2 linked regions of the Homo sapiens genome follow. The protein of the gene in region 2 purifies or fractionates together with the protein of the main gene of each other region. This does not show direct contact. Each region holds a gene or a part of one and is shown on either strand. Other genes may lie near its edges.

Region 1 (12,500 bases), on a different chromosome or scaffold from region 2:
ACAAACCACATCCAAACTGTAGCATCCTCCTAGACTAGCCCTTGGAGGTGGGCTGCCTCCACAAAAGGAATGCAATTTTTGATAAAGTGGTTTTGTTGGCTGAAGACAGTTGCTGGACAGGGACTCATTCAAGAGTTGGCCAGCAACCCTCCCAGCAGCTGGGGGAGTGAGTATCTCAGTCCTGAAAGGTAGCATACCAGAGCATCCACTACACCTGCATTTTCTGATTTTTTTTTCTATTTATTTGTTATTTTTCTAGAGATGGGGTCTCAGCTGTGTTGCCCAGACTGGTCTCAAACTCCTGGGCTCAAGTGATCTTCTCACCTTGGCCTATCAAAGTGCTAGGGTTATAGGCATGAACTACTGCACTCAGCCTGCATTTTCTGATTTCAAAATGACACTATCATCCACTATCTGATCTTTTCCACTCCTGACAGCTCTCTTTTTTCATTTGCTACCCAAGTCTTTTCCTTTCCTAGTGACCTTATAAAATATCATCCAGGCCAGGCACAGTGGCTCACGCCTGTAATCCCAGCACTTTAGGAGGCTGAGGCGGGAGAATCACTTGAGGTCAGGAGTTTGAGACCAGCCTGAACAACGTGGTAAAACCCTGTCTCCACTAAAAATACAAAAGTTAGCCACGTTTGGCAGCATGTGTCTGTAATCAAGTGGCTGAGGCACGAGAATCACTTGAATCCAAAAGGTGGAGGTTGCAGTGACCTGAGTTAGTGCCACCGCACTCCAGCCTAAGCAACAGGGTGAGACTGTGTCTCAAAAAATTTAAAAAAAAACATAATCCAGGGCCAGAGGCAGTGGCTAACACCTGTATTCCCAGCACTTTGGGAGGCTGAGGTGGGAGGATCCCTTGAGCCAAGGAGTTCAAGACTAAACATAGGGAGATCTCGTGCTCTCTCTCTCTCTCTTTCTCTCTCTCTCTCTCTCTCTATATATATATATACACACACACACACACACACACACACACACACACACATCATGCAGGTACAGTTTTGTATCATCTGTTTCAAAGGGCAACGCACTAAATAAAGCTGTACTCAACTTTTGAAAGCCCTCTTTTAAGATTAAAAAACTTCACAGGGTCCAGGCACGGTGGCTCACACCTGTAATCCCAGCACTTTGGGAGGCCAAGGTGGGTGGATGCCGAGGTGGGCAATCACGAGGTCAGGAGTTCGAGACCAGCCTGGCAAACATGGTGAAACCCCATCTCTAAAAAAAAAAATACAAAAATTAGCTGGGTGCAGTGGTGCACACCTGTAGTCCCAGCTACTTGGGAGGCTGAGGCAGGAGAATCACTTGAACCTGGGAAGCGGAGGTTGCAGTGAGCCAAGATTGAGCCATTGCACTCCAGCCTGGGTGACAGAGTGAGACTCCGTCTCAAAAAAGAAAAAACAGAAATAAAACAAAACAAAAAAACTTTACAAATCTCCACATAATAGTATCATAGTAGTAACTGAATGAATGCCCATTACAATAAATAATAAAAGCTATTATAAACTTGTTAAACTGGTTTAATCATGTGAACACCCACATATGTATGACACAAAAAAAGATAAGTATTTATATAAGGACATTTCTTGTTCTGGTGAGAGAGACAATGCTTGGTGTGCACACAAGTTCTTCAACTACCTGGATTAGGATGCTGCCTATAATTGTGTACAATAACGGAGTAGTCAGCTGAGGGGCAAGTGGAGATAGAAATCCAGCCCAATCTCTTATCACCAAGTTTTTCATCCCACCAAGGGCTGAATGTACCTGCAGAAAGGTGGCATTTTTTTAAAATCAATTGCCAAAACAAGATACCACTCAGGTCTCTCTTTTCTATTTAACATTAAGGCACCTCTATGCCAGCCCTGAACCTGCCCAGTGACTGATCACAAGCTTTGAGTCTGGAGTCAGTCCAAGATGTGGATTATGGCTTTGCCACTTACTTGCTATTAACCTTTGTTGTAGTCTGAATGTTTGTCCCCACACCCCCAAATTATAGTTATTGAAATTATAACTCCCAAGGTGATGGTATCAGGAGGTGGGGCCTTTGGGAGGTGACTGGTTCAATAGAGTGGAACCCTCATGAATGGGAGAAATGCCTTCATAAAGGAGATGGCTGGAGAAAACTAGTTAGCCCTTTCCACCAAGTGAGGTTACAGCAGTAAGACAGCTGTCAATGAGGGAGTGAACCCTCACCAGCCACTGAATCTTATGGTGCCTTGATCTTGGACTTCCCAGCCACTAAAACTGTGAGAAATAAATTTATGATGTTTATAAGCCACCCAATCTATGGCTTATAAACATAGCAGCCAAAATGGACAAAGACCACTTATCCATCAGCTTGTCTGTTTTTTTGTTTGTTTGTTTTTGAGACGGAGTCTCGCTCTGTCACCAGGCTGGAATGCAATGGCGTGATCTCAGCTCACTGCAACCTCCACCTACCGTGTTCAAGCGATTCTCCTGCCTCAGCCTCCCAAGTAGGTGGGATTACAGGCACCTGCCATCATACCTGGCTAATTTTTGTATTTTTGTAGAGATGGAGTTTAACCATGTTGGCCAGGCTGGTCTTGAACTCCCGACCTCAGGTGATCCGCCCACCTCGGCCTCCCAAAGTGCTGTGATTACAGGCATGAGCCACCGTGCCCAGCCCAACTTGTCTGTTAAATGAGATCATAACATCCCCCTCTCTGTGGTTGTGCTGTTCCTTCAGGTAGCAAATGGATACCATCTATTTTCATAGATCTTGTTTTATCAACTGTATTGTGGTATAATTTACATACAATAAAATATACAAGCATTAAGTATACAGTTTGATAAGTTATGGTAATGTAAACCGGTGACCAGATAGATAACCTGTGTGTTTTTTATACTGTCCAGAGATTGTATCAGACTCTGTGGAAATTACAAAGTAGCATAAAGCATCCTTACTTTGGTTAAACCCTTGATTGGGTTAGGCCTGGGATGTAAGTTCTCACAGCCCCCTACTTCCTCTGCATAACCACACATCACATTGTCTGTCACTCTCCTAGTCTGTAAAGCTACTTGAGGGCATCTCGAGCGTTTTCCCTGCTGTATCTGCAGGCATCTAACACAGTGCGTGGACATTCTGTAAGCATTTGTTGCAAGATAAATGAAAAAAACGTACAAAGTTAACAATGGATATCATGCTGAGTTTGTGCCAAACAAAACAGTCATTTGAAGAAGACCCGGAACAACCTTATGGGTTAGTAATTAGTAAAGACCAGTAGAGAAGGTGGCCTTTGAGAAGGGTCAGGTTTCAATAGGATTAAGGAGCATTTCAGAGCTAAACCAAGTACTTGGAAGAGATAAAAGCAGTGGGCTCAGGCACCAGCCTAGCCCACTGTGCATGAAGCTTGGTGGGGCTAAACATGATTATCAGTCCTTTAACTTTTATTGAACGCCTTCACTTCCAGATTTCTAAGTGGGGCTCAGGAATTATAATAGATGTCCACAGCTGCATGGTCTTCTCTCTCCACAACACGCAGACACTATTAGAAGTAAAAGCCACGTGTCCTCAAGAGGGCAAGGCAAAGCATCTTCAGATGTCTCTGCCCTTAAAGCACACGCGTTCTGCTCTGCGACGAAGCAGGACAAGGAGGACAGGGACCTGCACCTCCGGAGGCCCGCACCTACGAAGATAGCGGGCTCGGGACCTTCGGTGGACCGGCAGGGTTCCAGAGGCCCGCGCGCCGCCGCCCCGCCCTCATTGCTGAGCCTGCCAGGTAAGCAGCCCCAGCGCCGTGCCCGCGCGACCTCTACTCCTTCCGGGAGGGTCGCGCTCACGTCTGAAGTGGGAGCAATGCACCGGGACAGGGACACCTCCTAGGCCATGCCTGTTCCAGTCCAGTTCTGCCTGAAAGTCCGGCTGGCTCATCACCTGCCTAAATAAAACCGTATACGGGCAAACTCCCTCCGCAAGCAGCGCGCCCCAGCACCGGAAGTGACGCGTTACGTGCCCGCGTATTCCTACCGGCGTATTCCCGCCCTGCTTTTCGCCCGCCGTTCCGTGGCGGGAACTGAGGCGACTGTGGGGACATCAGTGATCGTAAGTCTCCTGGGCCCGTTATTCTCAGATTAGGTGACGGAGCTAAGACTTCGAGACCATCTCGTCCTTTTTGTATCGCGGAAACCTGAGGAACGAGCCGGCGGCGGTGACCTGCACGAGAAGCCAGGCTAACTGGTAACCTGCTGGAGGAACTGCAAGCCCGCTTCGCCTTCCCCACTCCTGCCCTTGATGCCCCTTGTGAGGTCTTCCACCTCCTTCGGGGCCCCAGCCTAGTGGCCCTTTCATGCCCTGGCCGCGCCCTTTGGTGAAATGGTGGTTCCGGACAGCATCTTGCAGGCCCCGGCTTTGGGCTGTATTAATGTTTAACAGCCCGAGGCAGGGATGGACTAATCCAGTAACGTTATAAAAACCTTGGCTGCTAACAGATATTAAAAATTTATTTTATTGAGCATATCCCCATATGCCAAGCAAGGAACTATGTATTTGCATACATTCTTTTATTTAACTCAGTTGTCCTGTGGAATAGGCCTTAGCTCCTTTAACAGAAAAGGAAACCGGGTATCATAGATGGTAATTCATTCACCAAATATTACGGAGCATCTACCATGTACCAGGCACTGTTCTAGGCACCAGGGCATGTAGCAGTGAAAAAAATAGAATTAACCGGGGACTTTTCAGGCGAGCTAATGATGCTTTTTATCCCTGAAAACAGCCTGGAAGAATGTTTACCTGCATGTTAGAAATAGTTACCTTCTGGGTGGGATTTTGTATTACTTTTTTAAATCTCTCATGCTTTTATGCATTGTTTTGATTTCTTCAAGTGAGTGTGTTATGAGAAAAACAGCTGTTTCTATTTTAACAACAGAGTCCCCCACCTTCCCTTCCCCACAGAAAGTCTCTGAAGGTAGGTAAGCATTGACTCTGCCATGAAAATAGGTCCCTGGCCAGGCGAGATGGCTCACACCTGTAATCCCAGCACTTTGGGAGGCCGGGGCAGGAGGATTACTTGAGCCCAGGAGTTCCAGACCAGCCTAGGCAACATGGTGAAACCCTGTCTCTACCAAAAATTTAAAAAATTAGCCGGGGGTGGTGGCACGCACCTGTAGTCCTAGCTACTGGGGAGGCTGAAGTGGGAAGATGACAGGAGCCTGGGATGTCAAGGCTGCAGTGAACCATGATTCCGCCACTGCACTCCATCCTAGGCAAAAGAGTGAGACCCTGTCTCAAAAACAACAACAACAAAAAAAGGTCTTTGAGTTCTGACCCAAGGAAAGGAGTGAAGGTTCTCATTTGTGGTGCAAGCAGAGCACCTTTAATTGCCGAAGAGTCCATTTCAGGGTCTGAGCTAGAGCTAGGCCCATGACTGTGAAAGAAACCATGGAGGCCCATGTGGTTTGGTCATTAGCAACATCATATTTATCAATGCATTTGGAACTCATTAAACATTTTTGTGACATATGATCTTTGTTCTATAACTCCTGCACTAGAAATAGATTCTAAGTTCGTTAGGGACTTTGACCACTTTTCTGTTCTTGTAGCCCTCAGTACAGTGCATTCAGAGTGTCCTAGGTCATGGGGTGATGTCCTTTATTATGTAACATCTTTGCACAAGGCTAAGTTTATTTTCGGGCTGTACTTTCTCATAATGGTTCCCCACCACCACCCCCGCTTTCCTATGGTGCTGATTCGCAATAAAAGTTTCAATAAAAGCTTTTTTTTTCTGTCTTGCACCTGACCAGGGTGAAGTACCATGCAAGCATTTCTTAAAGGTACATCCATCAGTACTAAACCCCCGCTGACCAAGGATCGAGGAGTAGCTGCCAGTGCGGGAAGTAGCGGAGAGAACAAGAAAGCCAAACCCGTTCCCTGGGTGGAAAAATAGTAAGAACACTTGTGTCTTTGTTAAAATAATTCATAAATTATCTCTCTAACCAGTACTGATCACTTTTTTTTTTTTTTAACTTATGGAGGAATGCTTTGTTCTGTTTAGAAGTTGTCTTTGAAAAAAAATCACCCACTTATATAAGTCATAGAACCCTGGAACTAAAGTTACCTGAGAATAATCTAGTTTAACTCCCTTATTTTGTAGATAAACTGAGATCTCTACAAGCAGAGGCTTCCATTTTAGGGGCTGGGATACAGAAGTGAAGAAAACAAAAGTTTCTGTAAACTGGCTATAAATACTAGGTCAGGAGTTCTACTTAAATCCAAATATGTAATCTGTTCCTCCTTCTTCTCATTACAATAGGTGGAAAGTATTATTATTATTATTACTATTTTTGAGACGGAGTCTCACTCTGTTGCCCAGGCTGGCGTGCAGTGGCATGGTCTCGACTCACTGCAACCTCCACCTCCTGGGTTCAGGTGATTATCCTGCCTCAGCCTCCCAAATAGTAGGGATTACAGGTGCCCACCACCACACCTGGCTAATTTTTTGTATTTTTAGTAGAGACGGGGTTTCACCATGTTGGTCAGGTCGATCGCAAACTCCTGACCTCAAGTGATCCACCTGCCTTGGCTTCCCAAAGTGCTGGGATTACATGCATGAGCCACCGCGCCCAGCCCTGGAAATTCAGTTTTGGTTAGCTCATACATTTTTGTCCAAACAACACTTGAATTAGCATTTAAATTGTCAGTCACCACCTGGCATGGTGGCTCATGCCTATAATCCTGTATGTAATCCCAGCAATTTGGGAGGCCAAGGTGGGAGGATCACTTGAGGCCAGGAGTTCCAGACCAGCCTGGCCAACATGTCGAAACCCCCTCTTTACTGGGAAAAAAAAAAAAAAAAAATTAGCCAGGCATGTTGGCGGGCACCTGTAATCCCAGCTACTTGGGAGGCTGAGGCACGAGAATCACTTGAACCTGGGAGGCAGAAATTGCAGTGAGCTGAGATCACACCACTGCATTCCAGCCTGGGTGACAGAACGAGACTCTGTCTCAAATAAATAAATAAAATTGTCAGTCATCTAAGTGATATTACCACAAGTAATTGTAACTATTGGTTGAATGTAGCCTCGGTAATTACCAATGTTTACAGATTACTTATAGGCCGAGTAAGGCCCTCATATGTTTTTTGTGTTTTTGTTTTTTGCTTGCCTTTTTGTTTGTTTGTTTTTTTGGGACAGATTCTCACTTTGTCACCCAGGCTGGAGTGCAGTGGCGCAATGTCAGCTCACTGCAACCTCTGCCTCCCAGGTTCAAGTGATTCTCCTGCCTCAGCCTCCCGAGTAGCTGGGATTACAGACATGCCCCACCACACTCAGCTAATTTTTGTATTTTTAATAGAGACAAGGTTTCATCGTGTTGACCAGGCTGGTCTTCAACTCCTGATCTCAGGTGATCTGCCTGCCTTGGCCTCCCAAAGTGCTGGGATTACAGGCGTGAGTCACTGCGCCCAGCCCCTTATATGTTTTGTTTGGCACCAATAAACCTCATGAAAATCTAGATTTTTTTAATTATGTGGAGGAGGGTCTGGATTTTCAGCTTCTCAGGAGATCAGGCAACACTGGGGGCAGGTTCTCACATGACAGGAGTTATATGGACTTGTGTACTGCTTCTCCTTTTGGAAAGGTCGTGTGTTCCTCAATTTGCCATGGTCCCTACTATATCTTGCATCACACTCTGCCTTCCTCACTCTTGTTATCTGCTTAATCTCTGCAGGTATTTGAATATGAGTCCCTGCTTTATAACATATACTGGATTCCCAAGAGAAGACATTAAAAAAAAAAATCATAATTCCTACCTAGTGTTAACCTGATTTATCGAAAAGTATGGATCAAAGAACTTTTGATTAGTTAACTAAGCACAAAGCCTAAGCTTAGAGTTGGAAGTGTAACTTTGTTCTAGCTTCTCTTAAAAATCACTGTTGTAAGATGAAAATTATATATGATACTTCATATTGGTTCAGCTTGTTGTTTTTGTTAGCCCTCAATGAATTGAATAGGTCTTCATTTTTTTATGCAGTTAGATGATGGAAAAAATTGGCATTAACCAGTTAACACATACTAAGTATATATGTAACTACATTAACCAAAATAGTTACCTATACTAAGGTTACTAAATGGTTTTCCCTTTTCATCTTAAGATTCATGATCTTATTTTGTCAAAGTGGAACAATGCTTTTTTTTTTTCTTTTGAGACAGAGTCTTGCTCTGTCGCCCAGGCTGAAGTGCAGTGGTGCGATCTTGGCTCACTGCAACTTCTGCCTCCTGGGTTCAAATGGGACTACAGGCATGTGCCACCACGCCCACCTAATTTTTTTTGTATTTTTAATACAGACGGGGTTTCACCATGTTGACCAGGCTGGTCTCAAACTCCTGATCTCAGGTGATCTGCCTCCCAAAGTGCTGGGATTACAGGCGTGAGCCACCGCATCCGGCCAATAATAATGCTTTCTAAGCAGGTGTTCACTTTAATTTTTTTTTTTTTTTTTTTTTTGAGATAAAGTTTCGCTCTTGTGACCCAGGTTGGAGTGCAATGATACGATCTCGGCTCACCACAACCTCTGCCTCCAGGGTTCAAGCGCTTCTCCTTCCTCAGCCTCCCGAGTAGCTGGCATTACAGGCATGCACCACCATGCCCGGCTAATTTTATATTTTTAGTAGAGACAGTGTTTCTCCGTGTTGGTCAGGCTGGTCTTGAACTCCTGACCTCAGGTGATCCACCTGCTTCAGCCTCCCTAAGTGTTGGGATTAGTGTGAGCCATCGCACCCAGCCCCACTTTAATTTCTTTTTTTTTTTTTTTTTTTTTGAGACAGAGTCTCCCTCTGTCACCCAGGCTGGAGTGCAGTGGTGCGATCTCAGCTCACTGCAAGCTCTGCCTCCCAGGTTCGTGCCGTTCTCCTGCCTCAGCCTCCCAAGTAGCTGGGACTACAGGCGCTCACCACCACGCCTGGCTAATTTTTTGTGTTTTTAGTAGAGACGGGGTTTCACTGTGTTAGCCAGGATGGTCTTAATCCCCCACTTTAATTTCTAATTAGTGTTTGTAGCATATAAAATAAAATCCTTTTTCTTTAATTTTTGTGGGTATAACAGATTCGAGCAATGCAGAAAGGAAGTAAAACATTATTTCACTCTTTCAGAATGTGTTTGGTTACGGTAAAAACAAGTGGGGTTTCCACCTATTTCCGATTATGAAAAAGTTTCTCATTTCATTGCTGATGTTTAAGAATGGTCATTGGTATTTTAGTAGAAGGAACACTTGAGAGTTTTCTGTGGCTACTATAATATACTAAATAACCTCTTTCCTCCTTCTCACCCCGCAAGTCGCCCAAAATGTGTGGATGAAGTTGCTTTCCAGGAAGAAGTGGTTGCAGTGCTGAAAAAATCTTTAGAAGGAGCAGATGTGAGTTGCAAATGGTGTTTAATGTCATTGGGATATTTAAGACTTAATTTATTCACCCTCTTTCTTCCTTTATAACTTCTAGCCCTCGTTAAATATCTTGCTCTGTGTACAGTAGGTCCTTGATAACTATTTGTACAATGATAATTAGTTCAAATATTTATTGAGCATCTCCTATTTAATCTTACATAGCAGTGTTACCTAGTATTCAAGTAAAAGTCATAGTAATTAAGACAAACTATGAAACATAGACATAGAACAAGACATAAAACATAGAACAAGACAAACTATGCCCCTTTTTTCATGGGTTTTTATTGGTAAGGAAAGATAGAATAAACAAGTAAACCAATAAATAATTATAGGTAGTAATATGTGCTATAAAGAAGAGCCAGAGATTCCTCTAAAGTATAATTGCTTACTAACTTTAGGATTTGGATTGACCTATAATACAAAAAAAAAATCGAGCTTTGAATTCTGCTTATAGCTCTCTCTTCTGCTGTGATCTGGGGGATAAAGTATCCATGGATAACTTGCATTGTAAATTATTCTGAGATAAGATAAACCCATGTGAAAAATTAGCAACTTAAAGTTGTGTTATGATGAATGCCCAAAGTGCTTTAACAGCTCAGTAAAGTGCTGAAGTGGGATGTGGTTTTTGCTTTAGTTTCAAGATTTGCTTCCTTCCTCTCAATCTGGCTGCTTTTAATTAGAAGTTCTTTTGGGTTTTGCTGCCATCATTCCCTTGCTGAAATTATATTACTACAGTACACATTTTGAAAGAAGTTAAATTTATAAAACTATTTAGAATCTTTTTCTTTACCAGTATGTGTTTTGATTTGACTCGCATACTCTTATACCTTTTTGGCCGGCCACAGTGGCTCACGCCTGTAATCCTAGCGTTTCGGGAGGCTGAGATGGGAAGATCACTTGAGGTCAGGAGTTCAAGACCAGCCTGGCCAACATGGTGAAACCCCATCTCTACCAAAAATTAGAAAAAGTAGCCAGGCGTGGTGGCACACACCTGTAGTCCCAGCTACTCAGGAGGCTAAAGCGGGAGAATCATTTGAACCTGGGAGGCGGAGGGGTTGCAGTGAGCCAAGATTGTGCCACTGTACTCCAGCCTGGGTGACAGAGTGAGACTCTGGTCTCAAAAATAAATAAATAAATAAGTAATAAAAAATAAATAACACAAATACTCTTATACCTTTTAATTTTATAATAGTATAGCATTTTATTTTTTGGTATATTCTGCTTGCATATCTTGGTAACAGTATATACCATTTTAATTGCAGTTGCATAGTAATTACACAGATTGCAGGACAATATCTAATTTAATTACTAGTATCTTCAGCAAATGTAGTGAGATTAAGATCCAGTTCTTTTGTTTTTTTGTTTTTTTTTGTAATTGAGACAGAGTCTTGCTCTGTCACGCAGGCTGGAGTGCAGTGGCGTGATACCAGCTCACTGCAACCTCCGCCTCCCAGGCTCAAGTGATCCTCCCACCTCAGCCTCCCAAGTAGCTGGGACTACAGGCATGCACCACCACACACAGCTCATTTTTGTATTTTTAGTAGAGATGGTGTTTAGCCATGTCAAGTGACCTGCCCGCTTTGGCCACCTAAAATGCTGGGATTACAGGCATGAGCCATCATGCCCAGCCTAAGATCTAGTTCTTGACTTTATGCCACGTAATTTATGAGGCTGAAGTAAGAACTTCAGTTTAATATTTTGTGCACCTTTTCAGACTAAGTTTTGTAAAGAGGTGAAATAGTTTTTTTAATTCAAAAGAGTAAAGGAAAACAATTCATTCAATTTATTTTGAAAGGTTTTAAAGAATTATAAGAAGATAATTTTTTCAGAAATTGATTTTAAGAACTGGTATTCCACATACAGTTCTTGAATGTACTACATATATTAGACTAGTGTATAATTAAGGTTTAATAATTTTACCCTGTTTCAAAGAATTTAAATTATTGTATCTGATAGTTAACCTGGATGAATCGTTACATTGTTAAGGGATGCACAGATCAAAATAATAGTTGTAGACCTTAATTACTAAGAAGCCTGGGAGGTTTTTAAGTTATGAATCTCATAGTTTGTTCTGTAAGCTATATGTTATGAATGTAACAGTAATAGTCTTCTAATTAACATATTTGTCTATGTATTGGTTTATTCATTCATTTGGCCAACATTGACTACTGTAGTAGATGCTAGAATACAGATGTGAATAGAACAAATAAGGTTCTTGGTCTTTTAATGAAGTAGACAGGCATTTTACAATTAAGCCCCACAGTGAAATAACAATAAACCAATGCAAAATGCAACAAACACTAATGAGAGAATAGGAGAGGAGACCTACTTTAGACTGAATGGTTTCTGATTTGTAATGCATTAGGAGTTGGCCAGGCAGAAAGAAGAGGATCAGACTCCAGGTCATGGGAGCAACATATGTTCGGGCCAGAAAGTGCCAAGCTGTTAGAAGCCATTGTAAGCTAGAGCCTGGAAGGTGAAGGAGGTGGTAGGCAGATCATGGAAGTCCTTTAGGCCATGGTAAAAAGCTGAGGGTTTTTTGGTTTGTTTTTGTTTTTCTAAGTGGAATAGTTTTAAGTAGCAAGCAGAGTGGTATCTGATTTAGGTGAAGAATGAATGGACAGGAAGAGGGAGGGTTAGGCAAGAGTGGAAACAAACTCTAATGCCTAGTTTCCTGTGTACACTGATTTCCTTATGTGACAGGACATACTGAAGATTGCACAGTATCATAACAGAGCTCATTAGAATTTAGTTGACTTATTAATTTTCACCACGGATCAGTCGACTGCTTGATAGGAGCCAAACTAGCTAGATACAAGGTATAAAAGAAGGTAGCTAGTGATTTAATTTTATCCTTTCCTCTTCTAATGAATTCTCCCTGATACATGCAAGCATCCTTACAGAGTGCATAATCATGATGTGGAGCAGTGCCTAGTACTTAATATATATCTAGTTTTGGATTTTTTGTTAATATTTCTGTTCTTGGTACTTCTGCTCATCCAAAGCCCTAATTATGTCTTTTTTAGTCCTTTTTCCTCAGTTTTGGCCAAATCCCATTACTCTTTTGGTCTGCTTCCCCTTTGAAGCAGCTGA
Region 2 (16,390 bases):
AAGCTCCATTTCTGCCTCCCATCTTCCAGGTGTGGTTTTCCTGGGGTCCATCTTTTCTTTCTTCTAATATAATCTCTCTCTCTGACCCGTCTCATCCATACCCAGCCATGATGATGGTTCCCAAATCTAAATTTCCAGTCTAAATGGATCTCCTGAGCACCATAACTACATATCCAGCCACTCCCTAGTGTCGCAGGTACTTAAAATTTAACATATCCAGGAAAAAATTTCAACTCCTACCTCCCTACCACCAAATTGTTTCCCATCCTGGAGATGAAAGATACCATGGTCCATCTCGTTACCCAGGCTGAGAGAGATCACTGAGGAGATCCCCTGAAATACTGTTTTAAGTACCTGAATTTTTTACTTCATTCCACTGCTAAAGTAAGGTTTCCAATTTCCATTTTGGTTAACTTTCTCAGACCTTGAGCCAAATTTTTAACTCCCCAAAGTCATGACAAGGGCCTGTGATTCTTTTTCTTTTCTTTTTTTTTTTTTGAGACAGATTCTCACTCTGTCACCCAGGCTGGAGTGCAGTGGCGCAATCTCAGCTCACCGCAACCTCCACTTCCTGGGTTCAAGTGATTCTCCCACCTCAGCCTCCCAAGTAGCTGGGATTATAGGCACGTGCCACCACGCCCAACTAATTTTTCTATTTTTAGTAGAGACAGGGTTTCACCACATTGGCCAGGCTGGTCTTGAACTCCTGACCTCAAGTGATCTGCCCACTTCGGCCTCCCAAAGTGCTGGGATTACAGGTGTCTGCCACAGCACTTTTACAGCCGGGCCTGTAATTCTTCTAAAGTAGTTACAAAAAGAATACCTTATTCCTTTTATTCCATATGTATTTAGGGGCTTTAATATTCTGAAATATTTCAAAAAGAGAATATTTAGATCCTCTCTCTAAATTGCTAGAATCTCTGAGTCTAATCCTGAAAAGAGACTTGTGTTAAACTATCAAGAACAGCTTTTTTGACATTGTACTCCTGCTGAAAACTGCCCTCCCTTGGGAAGCCAGCCTTGAGCAATCCTCCCTAAATCCTTATACAGCATTTCCCAGGTATCTGTGTGTGCTATCTTGGTACTTAATGGTTTGCTGTTTCACATTTTCTTGGCTTCACCTTGGTTTTAAGCTGTTCTTCCCACAATGCTTAATAAGATGAATAAGCACACGGTAGGTGATCAACAGATACTTAGTGAATGAATGAGCCACGTGTAGAAAACATCTTCTTCTGCATCCTGAACTAACTTGAAAAAGATACCATAATACAAACACCCTTTCCAAACACTTAAACCCAATTTTCCTCATGATGTAACCTGATCTATGAAAGTAAGGAGTAGTACAATGAAAACACCACCAGTTTATAAATTAGAGGACTGGGCTTCTCATCTAGATGCCACCACCACCTAAATATGAAATAGTGAGTTAATCTTCCTGGGTCTTAAGTTTCTTGATCCATAAAATTATGAGGTAAGAGTACAAGCTGTCTAAAGTTGTGAAAACTCTAAAAATGTGGATAATAAAAATTTTGCATCCTAAGCAAATGTCTAAGTGGGAAGATGGAGTACAGACCACATTAACTATAACTGCACTGCTCTCAAGTACCTGAAATAAGGCTTGTCAGGAGACATGGTAATTTGTAGGACTTCACTCGTCATATCCAATTCAGAAAATGCTTCACGGAGCCCCTCTGACTGCAGAATAATTTTATTAATAACATTGGTGCTGCAGAAATCAAAGTCCAGGGTCTCCTCAGGTTCCTGTGTATTGATTTTGCAGACTGTCACCACTCCTCCTTCTTCCAGGAACAGCATCAAAGGGTAACCATAACCTTGGTAACACATTCGAAGTGCAGTTAAAGTCCCTGCAATGGAAAGAAGTCATACTTGGCCTTAGCTTTATAGTTCTGGGTTCAGCTTCTCCTCGAAATGATACATAAAATTTCTCAAGAATAATTTATTCCGCCCAATTTCTCACATATATGTATCTCCTCATAAAAAGGGATGACATCTTCCCTGATGACAGTTGTGTGTAGAGAATTCCAAAACTACAAGAAAATTGGGAACCAGAACAAAATGTAACATAATTCTTTGGAATCATTTTCAGGTTGTCATACACACCTCAGAAATAGCTTGTTGATTTTATATATGTACAATTTCAGGGTAGAGAATCTATATGGATCAACACAGCAAGTAACTAAATTGCTGCAGAACAGGGTATGCTATTCCTTGAAGGTTCAATGTGTGTAACAGTGGATTGCTGTCATCTGTACTGTAACGTCAGTGTACTCACTATGACAAGGATCCTTCCAACTTTTCCAACTGGGAGATATTCTTTATATTTCCTCGAATTTAAAAATCAAATTGAGAGAAAAAGAGGGTTGTTAATGGTGGTGTAAATTTTAACTCTGCAAACCACTAGAGGGAAGGAGGAATATGACAGGATATTCAAACTCCTTCTCCTTACTGGATTGAGAGCCACAGTGAGGAATGGAAGATGACAGATGCTTCTGTGAAAAACTAGCTGGAGAACACTGTATTAGAAAATGTATAATTAATAATAGTGGAATTGTCTGTGGAAACGTAAAATACATTTTTCTGGAGAACTATATTGAATTTTTCCTAGCTAATCTCCAGGTTGCTTTCCTATGAAATAAAATCATTCTTCTGGGGATTCCTTAGTTTTATACCCACAGCAATTCAATTTCACCATTCTTAAAAATTCCCTTAACAAATAAAAAAATATATATTTTAAAGAAAATCATTCGGCAACCGGTTGCGGTGGCTTATGCCTGTAATCCCAGAACTTAGAGAGACTGAGGCGGGCAGATCACCTGAGGTCAGGAGTTTGAGACCAGCCTGGCTAATATGGTGAAACCCCATCTCTACTAAAAATACAAAAAATTAGCCGGGCGTGGTGGCACGTGCCTGTAATCCCAGCTACTCGGGAGGCTGAGGCAGAAGAATCACTTGAACCCGGGAGGCAGAGGTTGCAGTGAGCTGAGACTGTGCCATTGTACTGCAGCTTGGGCAACAAGAGAGAAACTCTGTCTCAAAAACACCACAAAATCATTTGGCAAAATAGACATAACTTATAAAATATGGCTTAAAAGAAACAAATTTTGAACATAGTAAACTAGGAGTCAGAACTGGCTTTTGTTTTTCTCTGCCACTAACTAGCGGAGTAATTCTGGACAAGTTAGGAAAAAGAAGCAATTAAAACATTTCACAATGCTAAAAATATTTAAGACATGTCCAAAGTATTCTTTTGGCCAGTTCGAATTTACAATCCCTCAAAGCCTTGTAAATTAAAAAAAAAATGCAAATACTTTTACAAATATGAAAAGAATTATAAACACACTTGCAATTAACATTGTGAAATGTTAGAACCCATGACTGTGGCCACTGAAAAATGAATTGGCATTAGCTTTCTGAACCAATGTTTATGTTCCAAATAACTTCCTGTATTTTTCTGACCACTATGTATAACACTTTTATGTCTTTATACTGATCATAGTTTACCTGGCATAGGACTTGATCCAAAAATAGATAAACAGTCTAAAAGGACAGTTAAATTAATTCGAAAAGTAACAGACTCTTCCTGAACTTTAAACTCCTGAAATATTCCAGCCTATGAAAAGAGTAAAAATGAAAATTGTTACATAAAAGAATAAAAACTAATAATATAAGGTCCTAGATTTCACTTTATACGTTTAAAAAATACAATACTGTGCTAATCCCATGAGAATAATTTCTGATTAGCAATCAAAACATCTTAGAGACATCCTTTGAAGCATCCTTATCTCCATTCCTGGATCTAAAACTATCCCTCTGTGACTCTCCCTTGTCTCGTTTTTGTGCCTATCACTACTGCTAAGGTCACTTGGAAAATAGACGAATGACTTGATAATGCATGAGCAACATTAGTTTCAACTTTTATTATGATTTTTTATTGATACGGGGGTCTCACTATGATTACCCAGGCTGGTCTTTAATGCCTGAGCTCAAGCGATCTTCGTGCTTCAGCCTCGGTCTCCTGAGCAGCTGGAAATACAGGTGTGAGCCACCATACCATGCCCCTGCATGAGGACAAGAACCGTGTCTTATTTACCTCTCTATCCCTGAGATCATGCTGTGCACTTACGTGTTAAAAAACGCTTAGTTGAACTTGCAATCCTATCTGAACCACACAAATATTACTTTGGAAGAACAAAAATTCTATTACAACCAGTAAAGGAAAAAAATACTCTTTAGTAATAGCATATCGCAGTGGAAAAAAGAGCATATATTCTGGAAACAAATATTCAGCGTTCTTATCCCAATTCAGCCACTTACCAGCTGTGGGACTGTTGGCAAATCACTTAAAATTGTGCCTCGTTTCCACATATATAAAACGGGAATAATAACAGAACCTACCTTACAGGACTATTGTTAAGATTAAATAAGTTAAACAATAAGAAGACTGTAGCCTAGCCAATAGCCTAGTTTAATAAACTTTAGTCATTACTAACCATTATCTCTGTAAAACAAGATGGGAAAAGAATTTGTTACCGGGAGAGAAAAAAAATTCAAGTAATGACGTTTTGTTCTCTAACTTAAGACTATTATTTATTTATTAAGTTATTTATTATGACTATTGACAAGTTATTATGACTATTAAGTTATTTTGTCTACTGAAACCTTCCGATTTCATTAAATTACATTTAGAGTATCTATGGCACAGGCTTAAAGGCGCCTACTTCCATACCTGAATAAAAGCATTTGCTTGCACACACTTTGCATTTTCCACTGTTACTTTGATACCATTTTTAGTTGCGAAACACGTGGCATGTTCTCGGAAATGAATAGCTTTCAAGATAGTGGAGAGATTCCTAACGTTGTCAAGGCTGGCCACAAGGCTGTACTGATCATCCTCGTCTTGGATCTGTTGGGTCAGAAGGGGCATCGTCCACTGCGCATTCGGCCCCGAGGGATGCTCCTGGGGCCAACAACTTCTCGGCGGATCGCCAAACACCTGAAGGGATTAGACAGTAAAACTCCCATCAGTGCTGGCGAGGTCCGGCGAGCTCCACCTGCGCTGAGAGGTGGAAAGGGGCTGGGAGGCTGAACACGGCTGACCAGGCCGAACCCCACCTATGTCACTTAACTATCTTTGTAATTCTGGAGGAAAATTATCTAAGCTACGGTTTCCTCGTCTCCGTAAGAGGACAATAACGTGAAAAGTTGTGAAGAATGAAGACACGCAACTGACACGGTATCTCCCGGCCAAACAGGAGCTACAAATCCGCGGGGAGTCGGTTTTGTGCAGCCCGCGCCACCAGCCCCGCCTCCAACAAAACAGGCGATGGCGGGGCGGGCCCGGAGTGTCCAGATAATCCTCCAAGAGTCCCAGACAACCCCATTCACCAGCCCGCCCGCGGGACAGCATCGCTTACTAGTCTCGGGGTCCCCGAGTGCGGAAACCCTACCTTTGCGGTGGGGTCTGGACGCCCGAGAGCCCTTCTCAGCAAAGTCCCTGAAGAGGAGCGAGGCGGCTCCGAGGAACCGCGGAGGAAGTGAAGCCAGTCCCGCCACTCTTCAGACCGGCCCTCCACCTCGGCCACCGTCACCACAGAGCTGAAGGAGGCCTAGAGAGCCGCGCGTGCCGCGCCACCGAGACCGGAAGGAGGCGGCACAGACCTGGAGGACGACCGCGGAGCTGAGCGCTTAGAGCCGCCGAACCATAGAGATCGGAAATAGGAGCGAGCGGCAGCGCCGGAAAGGAGGCCAAGAGCGCGGGCGGCGAGGCAAGATGGCGGCAACCAAGAGGAAACGGCGTGGAGGCTTTGCAGTTCAGGCGAAGAAGCCAAAAAGAAACGAAATAGATGCGGAGCCGCCAGCTAAGCGGCACGCCACAGCAGAGGAGGTGGAGGAAGAAGAGAGGGACCGGATCCCAGGCCCCGTTTGCAAGGTAGGAGGGGATGTCCCCGGGCTACACCTGCGGCGGCGGCTCTGTGCGCCTTTTCTTGGGTTACTTACTTGACTACAGCCTTGCTTAATTTCAGAGTAGCCCGGGTGTTAACGGTAGGTCGGTTTTAGCAATTCTCCCGGCCAGACTGGGCACGGAGTTTGCAGCTAATCCTTGTGCACGTGGCCGTCTTCCTGGAGGCGGCGGGTTTTAAAACCTTTACCCGGCCCACGGGGAAGCGACTTACAGGGTGCTCAGATCCAGCGTTCTTTCTTACTAGTTGTTCAGTTGTTTTTTTTTTTTAATGTTTTTGGAGAGTAGTGCTTTTCCTTGGTTATTTCTCGCTATTATTTCTCCAGTGATTAGTATGCCCATATACTGCCATAGTCAGCCACTCTCAGTCAGGGATCCTGAAGTACGTTAGGGGAGCCTTTAAAAAGTTGTTGCCCTTGGGACTGTGACTCTGACTTGTTAACCAGGTCATTAACTCAAGAGATACTGAAAAATAGACTAGGTAGTATGAGCTTTACTTGTATTCAACAGACATTGAATGTGCCATGCACTGTACCAAGTTAGGCTTCCTTTGGGTTTGAGATTGCAAAGATGACTAGAATGTGACCTCTTCCTCCTGAAATGTTGGAGTTTAGGAGGAAACTTAAGAATTCAAATAAGTTGATGGTTTTTATTCAAAAGAAGTGCACACAAGTTGTTAGAATTAGCTTTCATTCAACTAAGAACTCTTCTTAAGCTAGACAGAATACTGTGAACAAGGATTATCTTTGACATTAATTTTTGCGTCCTCCGCACTTAGCATAGTACTCTAGCGCGGAGTAGGTGATAAGTAAATGACCCCGTGTGGTGTGATGGCAAGCTCTAAGAAAGAAGTGAGCTCTGTGGAATGAAAGATAAGTGTAAATTCTAGCCCCGTTATTAACAGCAACATTCTGTGCTCTTTTCTGACCTGCAGATTGGGGGGCAGGGGGAGGGAATATTTACTTTTTATGAAAAATAAGCTGGACTTGTACACTTCCAGTAAATGTTAGTGTTCTCACTCTTCCCTTGAGCTAGGTAGTATCTATAATCTGAGCCATACTTCGATACATTCTATGGAAGTGCAGGAGATATAGATTATTTTTACCCTAGTATAATAAGATAAAGAATCATGAAGGATTTAGCCCGTAAGCTGCATATCAGAGGAAGTGTAGAATTTTGACATTCAAAAAATGAGAGGGAACACTCCAAGGGAGAAAAAAAAACCGATGAAAGACTTTGAAGTAGGGAAATGCTGAAAAATGTAAAAAATAGAGCCAGATTGGATTGCATTAGGCTTCATTTGGGGCAATAATGATGTAGACGTGAAAATCTATTTTAAAATTCAGTGTCAAAGCTATGTCATTTGAACTTTGTTTAGAAAACTCTGGGAAGTAAGGATGTGATGGAAGTATTACTTTAAAAATGGTCCAGCGTGGTGGCTCACGCCTGTAATCCCAGCACTTTGGGAGGCCGAGGCGGGTGGATCACTAGGTCAGGAGTTCAAGACCAGCCTGGCCAAGATGGTGAAACCCCGTCTCTACTAACACTACAAAAAAAAAAAAATCAGCCAGGTGCAGTGGCGGGCACCTGTAATCCCAGCTACTCGGGAGTCTGAGGCAGGAGAATCGCTTGAACCCGGGAGGTGGAGGTTGCAGTGAGCCGAGATCGCGCCACTGCACTCCAGCCTGGGTGACAGAGTGAGACTCCATCTCAAACAAACAAACAAAAAAAGTAAACTGTTGAAAAAGCTAGTCAACCATATCTATTGGAGGTGCTCATGTCTGGGAAGGTTAGCCATTTAGGAGTTTTGCAGTTAATATAAGACTCTAAGTAAGTGCAGTGTGAATAAGAAAGGATTAAGAGTTGTGGGAAATTATTATGAGACATCTGTCATGGAGAGCACAGAAATAAGAGGGCTAAGAAAGAACTTTTAGGGTTGGAAGGAGGAATTGGAGAGATTGAAGTTGAAAAACAAAGAAACCAAGGAGGGCATTTCTGGGTGGCAGATGTGGTCAGTGAATGTTGGTGAGAGATGAAATTAAAGGAGTCAGGATGGTTTGACTTGGTTATGAGCTACTTGGAAGCTCATAAAAAACAAACAGGGCCAGGTGCGGTGGTTCTTACCTATAATCCCAGCGCTTTGGGAGGCCAAGCCACTTGAGCCCAGGTGTTGGAGACCAGCCTGGGCAACATAGGGAGACTCCCATCTCTACAAAAAAAAAAAAAAAAAAAACTAGCTGGACATGGTGGCACATGCCTGTAGTCTCCAGCTACTGTAGATGCTGGGGTGGGAGGATCACTTACTTGAGCCCAGGAACTTGAAACTGCAGTGAGCCGTGAGCACTTCAGCCTGGGCAACAGTGTGAGACCCTGTCACAAAACAAGATCAGTTCAGTATAAGATTTTAAAATCTTTTAACATTTTCTTTTTCTTTAGGGAAAGTGGAAAAATAAGGAACGGATTCTCATCTTTTCTTCCAGAGGAATAAATTTTAGAACAAGACATTTAATGCAGGACTTGAGAATGTTGATGCCTCATTCTAAAGCAGGTGCCTTTATATCATATACTTTAGAAATTTCTATCTATAAACTTACCTATTTTTATGTTTTCACTTATTTTATATATTCTTCATTTGTTCAGTGTTCTCACGAAAAAAACACAATGCCTTTTATCCTTTCAAGTGCCACAATTTTTCCAGTTAACATTTCGTAAGAAATTCTTTAGATTTCATTAGGTAGATTCTTTACTTTTTAAAACAGGTGTCCTAATATTATTGAAACATTTCTTGAAGGTCCAGGAATGCCTTCACTGTAATGCTTCTGAAGGTCCTGAGATAGGTGGGATGGTTTGTCCTAAGTGCTAAGGACTGCCACATGTTGCTTTTTGGGCCTTTTTTTTTTTTTTTTTAACTGTTTTTATTGAAAAATGGACCTGGGATAGAATTCAAAGCACTTTTTAAGTTGGAGTCAGAGCCTATTTCTAAATGCCAGGTTATTTATTTATTTTTAAGCAGTGGGTTATTTTACAGGCAAGAACAGTATGGCCGGGCATGGTAGCTCATGCCTGTAATCCCAGCACTTTGGGAGGCCGAGGTGGGTGGAACACTTGAGTCCAGGAGTTCCAGACCATCCTGGGCAACATGGTGAAACCCTGTCTCTACAAAATAAAAAAAAAAAAAAATGAAAAAAGTAAAGTAAATTAGCCAAGTGAGGGGGTCACTTGCCTGCAGTCCCAGCTACTCAGGAGTCTCAAGCAGGAGGATGGCTTGAGCCCAGGAGTTCAAGGCTGTCATGAGCCGTGATTGCGCCACTACATTTCAGCCTGGGCAAGGAGCAAGACCCTGTCTCAAAAAAAAAAAAAAAAAAAAAAAAAAGTTTGGAACAGTGGAGTGGCAGCGCCATCATATGGCTGTTGTTGTGCTTATGTTGAGAGGTGCTTTGGGGTTTTTTTGTTTTTTGTTTTTTATTTTTAAAATTTTAACTTATTTTAGATTCAAGGAGTATATGTGCAGGTTTGTTACACGGGCATAAAGTCAGTTTTCTTTGACACCTAAGATTAAAAAGTGAAAGATATTTTCATTGAAACTGGTTTCCTTTAACACAGTCTTTGGTTTGTGAGAATTTTCCCATTTTTGAAAAGGATTCCTAGAATACCTAAATATTGAGAAACACTGCTTACACTATAATTTCTAATTCTTACAGACTATATTTTACTTATTTTCTTTACATTTACAAAGAGTCAAGATTTTTGAGCGATTGTTTCCAGCTCTTGTTTTGAAAATTAGTAATAAAATCTCCTTTAAACTGAAGAGTGTAAAAACACTTTATTTTCTGGATAGCATATGTGGTTTGATTGAAATAACTTTGAAATCACCTTTAATTTACTTGCTTTTTCTTTTTTTTCTTTTTCTAGATACTAAAATGGATCGTAAGGATAAGCTATTTGTGATTAACGAGGTAATTTTGGAAAGTAATTGCAACAAAATATTTTTAAAATGTTAACAGTGGCTTATTTCAAAACTAAGTCATTCAGTGACTTTAAAAATTATTTTGTAAAAACTATTCAGACACATTTTATTAACTCTTCAATAACTGGTCTTCCAAATTTTTATCTCTCACAGTTTAGTGCTTCATTCATTTCTGTTTGTTTTGTCTGAACAAGCATATTGAAATTTCCTCAGGAGAAGGATTATGTCCCATTTTTTAACCCTGTAGTGTCTAGTATTATGCTAAATCCATAGTAGGTACTCAAAAAATTATCAGTCAACATATATAAAGTAAAATAAGTCCATTAAACATATATATATATAAAACCCACATGGTAAAAAGTGTTTTGCCAGTATTAAAAGTGATTTGTGTGGAACTGGCTATTAAGGTATTACAAACTGAATAGGTTACATTTTCAAAGTATTGTTTAAGATACTACACTTAGGTATTTTTTTTAACCTCTGGAAGCACAGAACATAAATTTACATTTTAAAGCAAAATTTTCAAAACTTAGAAGAATTAGGATCATTTTTTCACTATTAGCCTTCTTTAGAGCACAAATTTTTGAACCTCTGCTGTAATACCACATTATTCTATGTGCTGTAGAAACTGTTCAACAGAGCAATGTCCCTGTCATTATGGAACTTACATTCTAATGGAGACAGGCCATAAACAAGGTTTATAATTTCAAGTAAAGACAGGAGAAATAAAGCAGGTTATAGGTTTTGGACAGCTGAGGCTACACCGGAAAAACCTGTTCAAAGGGATGGTGTTTAATATTTGAGCAGAGACGTAGTGAAGGAGAAATATGGTAAAAGACCATCTAGCTAGAGAAAATGGCAACTACAAAAGCCCAGAAGTGGCACAAACTTCCTATTTTTGTGTTTATTCTAAGACCAGTAAGAAACAAAAGTTTTGTTTTTTTTTTTTAAGTTGTTAGGGTTTGTTTATTTGTTTAACTGGTTTTGGAGACAAAAGTCTCTCTCTGTTACCCAGGCTGGAGTGAAGTGGTATGATCTCAGCTCACTGCAGCCTCTGCTTCCTGGGTTTAAGCAATTCTCCTGCCTCAGCCTCCCGAGTAGCTGGGACGACAGGCACACGCCAGTATGCCCAGCTAATTTTTTGTATTTTTAGTAGAGATGGAGCTTTGCCAGGTTGCTCAGACAATTCACCTACCTCGGCCTCCCAAAGTGCTGGGGTTATAGGCATGAGCCACCTCATCCAGCCATAAGTTGTTAGGTTTAAAGTCTTAAATAATGTGGAGTTTAAGAGTACTATATTAATTAGAGTTTATGAATACTACAGTAATACAAGCCTTCACTCCTGTAATGTTTTTGTGTCTTCTCAAGTGTGACTTTTGTAAGCCTTCAAGACATTGAAGTTTAATTTGAAATAGGTTTGATATACTTAGGCTTTTCACCCAATCCCTTAGTGATTTTATAGAACCAAATCACCAGAAATGATAGTATAAATGAAGAACAACTTAAGTTTTGTGATCTTAGAATCAAAAAGCTAAAAAGTTAAAAATCAAAATAATCATTAAAAAGGATGTTTTTAGTTCTATAAGTACTGCATTTTCATAAGATTGGCTAAGAAGATTGATTATGAAGGATTAACATAAGAAGATTAGTTGTGGTATGCTTTATCCGTAGGGCATCTATTTTTAGTCTTTGTAGTTTGTCAATGGGACTATGGGCAGAAGAGGTTCCTGGCCAGGTGAGGTGGCTCACACCTGTAATCCCACCACTTTGGGAGGCTGAGGCAGGCAGATCACCTGAGGTTGGGAGTTCAAGACCAGCCAGACCAACATGGAGAAACCCCATCTCTACTAAAAATACAAAATTAGCGGGGTGTGATGGCACAGGCCTGTAATATCCCGGCTACTCCGGAGGCTGAAGCAGGAGAATCATTTGAACCTGGGAGGTGGAGGTTGCGGCGAGCCGAGATCGTGCCATTGCACTCCAGCCTGGGCAACAAGAGCGAAACTGCATCGCAAAAAAAAAAAAAAAAAAAAGGAGGGAGGTTTCCAGTAATCAGAAGTGAGACCATTTTAGATGCTAGGCCCAAAAATATGATAGATAATTTCACCCAAGATATGGGCAGAGCATCTAGTTTACCTTGGGTAGAATACCTAAGAGGAACTTTAAAGGTTCCTTCTGTGAATAAATACATGTTTAGGCCTTTGTAGCCTATTAGCCTGGTTAGGTATTTTTGAGATAATCTGGATGATATTAATCACATATAATTACTTTAGTTCTCATTTATATTATCTACTTCATTTTCCTATACTTTGCTTCCTTTAGGTTTGTGAAATGAAGAACTGTAATAAATGCATCTATTTTGAAGCTAAGAAAAAACAGGATCTCTATATGTGGTAAGAGAATGTATTAAGATTTTGGTTAAACTCATTTAAGTGGATTTGTTCTTTGTACCTTTTATGTTATAGACTCCTAGTGTTTCATGTTAAGGGTTGAGAATGAAGCAAACTTTTGATTTCACGAAACTTGATACCTTTAAAGAAAATTAAATGTATAAATATTATAAGCATATTATTTATGGTGAATAGGTGGTAAGCATTGACTACATTTGCTAATTAGTTGAAAAAGCTTACTCCATATCTTTCAGGCTTTCAAATTCACCTCACGGACCATCTGCTAAATTCCTTGTTCAAAATAGTAAGTTGACTCAATAAATTTTTTTAGATGAGGAAATTAAAAGTAATCTTTTGAAATAGTTGTGCAAAAGTTACAACTATTTTTGTTTTTGTTGTAATTTTTCTAGTTCATACCCTCGCTGAACTGAAGATGACTGGAAACTGTTTGAAAGGTTCTCGGCCCCTTTTGTCTTTTGACCCTGTAAGTTTCTCATTCAGTGTATGAGGTCTAATTTTCTTATCTGGCATGGTTGTTTTTAGTAGATATAGTTGTGTTATTCAATTTAGTTTCACCCCCACCTTGGTTTTATGGATTATCAATTCTTTCAGGTACATTTATAATGAGGTTATAGCCAAGTTATAGAAACAAATGAGCAAACAGTTTTAAACAAGGCAGTCTACTGTTAAATAATATGCTTACCTTATTTTTATAGGCTTTTGATGAATTACCACATTATGCTTTGTTAAAAGAACTCTTAATTCAGGTAAATATCTTTAAAATTAGCTATCCAAAATATACATGATATATCTTGGAATAAGGAACTAACATACACTTTTTTAACTAGATCTTTAGTACACCACGGTATCATCCCAAAAGCCAACCATTTGTGGACCACGTGTTTACTTTCACCATTTTGGATAATAGGATATGGTTTCGGAACTTTCAGGTAAGCTTTACTTGATTTTTAATTATACCTTTTTTTTAATTGAGTTTATTTATTTATGTTTTGAGACAGAGTCTCGCTCTTGTTGCCCAGGCTGGACTGCAGTGGCACAATCTTGGCTCACTGCAACCTCCACCTCCCGGGTTCAAGCTTCTGCTCCCTCAGTCTCCTGAGTAGCTGGGATTACAAGCACCCATCATCACGCCTGGCTAATTTTTGTAGTTTTAGTAGAGACGGGGTTTCGCCATGTTGGCCAGGCTGGTCTCAAACTCCTGACCTCAGGCCATCTGCCCGCCTTGGCCTCCCAAAGTGCTGGGATTCCAGGCGTGAGCCACTACACCCGGCCTAATTTTTTTTTTTAGAGATAGAGTGTCGCAGTGTTGCCTAGGTTGGCCTTGAACCTCCTGGCCTCAAATCATTCCTCCTCAGCATCTTGAGTAGGTGGGATTGCAGTTGTGAGCCACTGTGCCTGGTCAATTTTTAGTTAAACTTTTAGATAAGGATATACAGGGTTTGCATACACAAAAAATGCAAATAATTCTTTTGTTTTAAATAGCTTCCTTTTCCCTAAAGAGATTGCTGCAAGTAACTATGTACTGTCTTATATCTTAAGTGAGCTCTACCTACTTCTATTCATGACTGTTAGTTGATACAGAGTATGGATTTCCTAATAAGCCATTATATATTTAACTTTATAGAAAGGGAATAACTTGAAGATCCATGAGATACTTGGGTTCCTAATTTGTAGAAAGTGCTGTAAAGGATACAGTAAAATAGAAGTTTCTCTCTCAAAGCTTAGAAGTTTCTCTCTCAAAGCACCTCAAAGGTTAAGACCTAGCAAAATGTAATTGCTCTAGAAGGCATTCAATGGCAGCGGTTAGATGATGAGTCACACAGTGACTCATTCAGGAGAAAAGAGGAGGTGACTCTAGAAATCTTGAAGCAGGAGTTTGGCACGATAAGTGCAGAAAGATGAAGAGGTGGAAGAGAACAGCAAGAACAAAATTTTAGACAGTATATGACATAAACTGAGCTCTTTTCTGCATATTTTATATTGGATACCTGGCATGTGAGTTGAACACATCATCCTAACCTCTGAGGGTAGACATGCCTGAACTAATAGATAACATAAATATTTGTTGTTCGGAAGTTGCCTTTTAATTCCATAATCAGTAGCTATTAAATAAATTTGACTACATATCCTTTTAATCTAACTTGAATTAGATTTATAAAAACAATTTAGGGATTGATTTAAGTTTCAAGAGTTCCCCCATAATGTGCTTTAATACATTTTGTTAATAGTGGTTACTGTTTTAAAATCCTGTTTAACCAGTTTTTCAAGGATATATGCATTGTGACAAGCAAGATGTGAACCAAAATCTAATTACTCAATTTTAAAAGAACTCACTGAAAAAACATTTTTCCATGACAACTTCCTATAAGTACTAATAGATTTCAGAAAATATTGATGATTTGCCATTTACCAAGTTTCACCCCCACCTTGATTTTATGGATTATCAATTATTTCAGGCACATTTATAATGAGGTTATAGCCAGTATACCTTTTGGGAATAACGTAACCAAACCAAAATGAAATGTTTCCTTTTTATTAAAGATCATAGAAGAAGATGCTGCTCTTGTAGAAATAGGACCTCGTTTTGTCTTAAATCTCATAAAGATTTTCCAGGGAAGTTTTGGAGGACCAACTTTATATGAAAATCCTCACTACCAGTCACCAAACATGGTAAGCGGTTGTGTCATTCAGTAGTCTTCAATGTACCAGAACCCTTTGGCCAAAATGATTCTGTGAAGTAATTGCTGTTTTATTACCTGTGAAACTGAATTTGGTTTTTGCTGCATAGAAACTTGGAAATTACTCCCTTTTTTCATGACACTGGCTGAAAGGATATATGGTTCATAACTGAAAGTCTTTGCCTTATATAAAATGTTTATTTTTATTTCAAAAGCATCTAATCTTTTTTTTTTTTTTTTAGCATCGGCGTGTCATAAGATCCATCACAGCTGCAAAATACAGAGAGAAACAGCAAGTGAAAGATGTGCAAAAACTGAGAAAGAAAGAGCCGAAGACTCTTCTTCCACATGATCCCACTGCAGATGTTTTTGTAACACCAGCTGAGGAGAAACCAATAGAAATACAGTGGGTAAAACCAGAGCCAAAAGTTGATTTGAAAGCAAGAAAGAAACGGATTTACAAAAGGCAAAGAAAAATGAAACAGAGGATGGACAGTGGGAAAACAAAATAAGTCAATGGAAACCTGATTTGTTTTTCAGTTACTTTATATTTATTTTGTATTCAATGTGTAAATACTTTTATTATCTAATACTATCTTACGTCTAATTAGTGTAGCATTTACAAGAAAGAAAAATTAAGATCTTAAAATCAGTGATTATCTTTTTCTAAATAAAATATCACCAGAATTCATCAGTTAATTTCTGATTTCTTTTTGAAGTTTGTGTTGCTAAAAATGTAGCACACTTAATGTAGCCTGTTCTCTTGGGTTGGAATTTTTGGTTTAGCAAAGCTGAAATTCAGACATTTATTAGGTCATATTATTTGTAAAAGCATTCAACACTTCAAGAGCATCGGTTGTGGATGGTAAAGTAGGAGTAGACTGGTAGAAAGGAAGGCATCTCACTGAAGTTTACTCAGTCATCAGTTAATGAAGCCATGGAAGAACCAACCCCTGATCTGTCACTTCAAAAAAGAGTATATTAAAATGTTGAGGTTTTGAGAATCAAATGCATTAATGGCTGTGTTGAAAGCACTTTGTAAATTTTTTATTTTATTATATTTTATTTGTGAGACGGAGTTTCGCTCTTGTTGCCCAGGCTGGAGTGCAATGGCGCGATCTCGGTTCACCGCAACCTCCACCTCCCTGGTTCAAGTGATTCTCCTGCCTCAGCCTCCCGAGTAGCTGGGATTACACGCATGTGCCACCACGCCCAACTAATTTGTATTTTTAGTAGAGTTGGGGTTTCTCCATGTTGGTCAGGCTGGTCTCGAACTCCTGACCTCAGGTGATCTGCCCACCTCGGCCTCCCAAAGTGCTTGGATTACAGGCATGAGCCACCATGCCCGGCCAAA

What was found.
Region 1: the proteins of RAD1 (region 2) and RFC4 purify together in Homo sapiens (affinity purification with mass spectrometry; 3 studies listed by BioGRID and IntAct, with this or other methods). This does not show direct contact.

What each region holds. Positions count from the first base shown.
Region 1 is NC_000003.12:186,797,997-186,810,496, reverse strand, and holds the start of RFC4 (replication factor C subunit 4), read left to right. Parts: upstream 1-4,014; 5' UTR 4,015-4,207; intron 4,208-5,772; 5' UTR 5,773-5,783; coding exon 5,784-5,914; intron 5,915-9,301; coding exon 9,302-9,380; intron 9,381-12,500. UniProt on the Homo sapiens protein: Subunit of the replication factor C (RFC) complex which acts during elongation of primed DNA templates by DNA polymerases delta and epsilon, and is necessary for ATP-dependent loading of proliferating cell nuclear antigen (PCNA) onto primed DNA.
Region 2 is NC_000005.10:34,909,948-34,926,337, forward strand, and holds the start of RAD1 (cell cycle checkpoint protein RAD1), read right to left. Parts: upstream 5,558-16,390; 5' UTR 5,469-5,557; intron 5,015-5,468; 5' UTR 4,946-5,014; coding exon 4,748-4,945; intron 3,632-4,747; coding exon 3,523-3,631; intron 1,866-3,522; coding exon 1,607-1,865; intron 1-1,606. Other genes in the region: BRIX1 (ribosome biogenesis protein BRX1 homolog), read left to right, coding at 5,792-5,950, 8,417-8,528, 9,893-9,936, 12,270-12,340, 12,592-12,641, 12,748-12,821, 13,054-13,104, 13,186-13,287 and 2 more. UniProt on the Homo sapiens protein: Component of the 9-1-1 cell-cycle checkpoint response complex that plays a major role in DNA repair. The 9-1-1 complex is recruited to DNA lesion upon damage by the RAD17-replication factor C (RFC) clamp loader complex.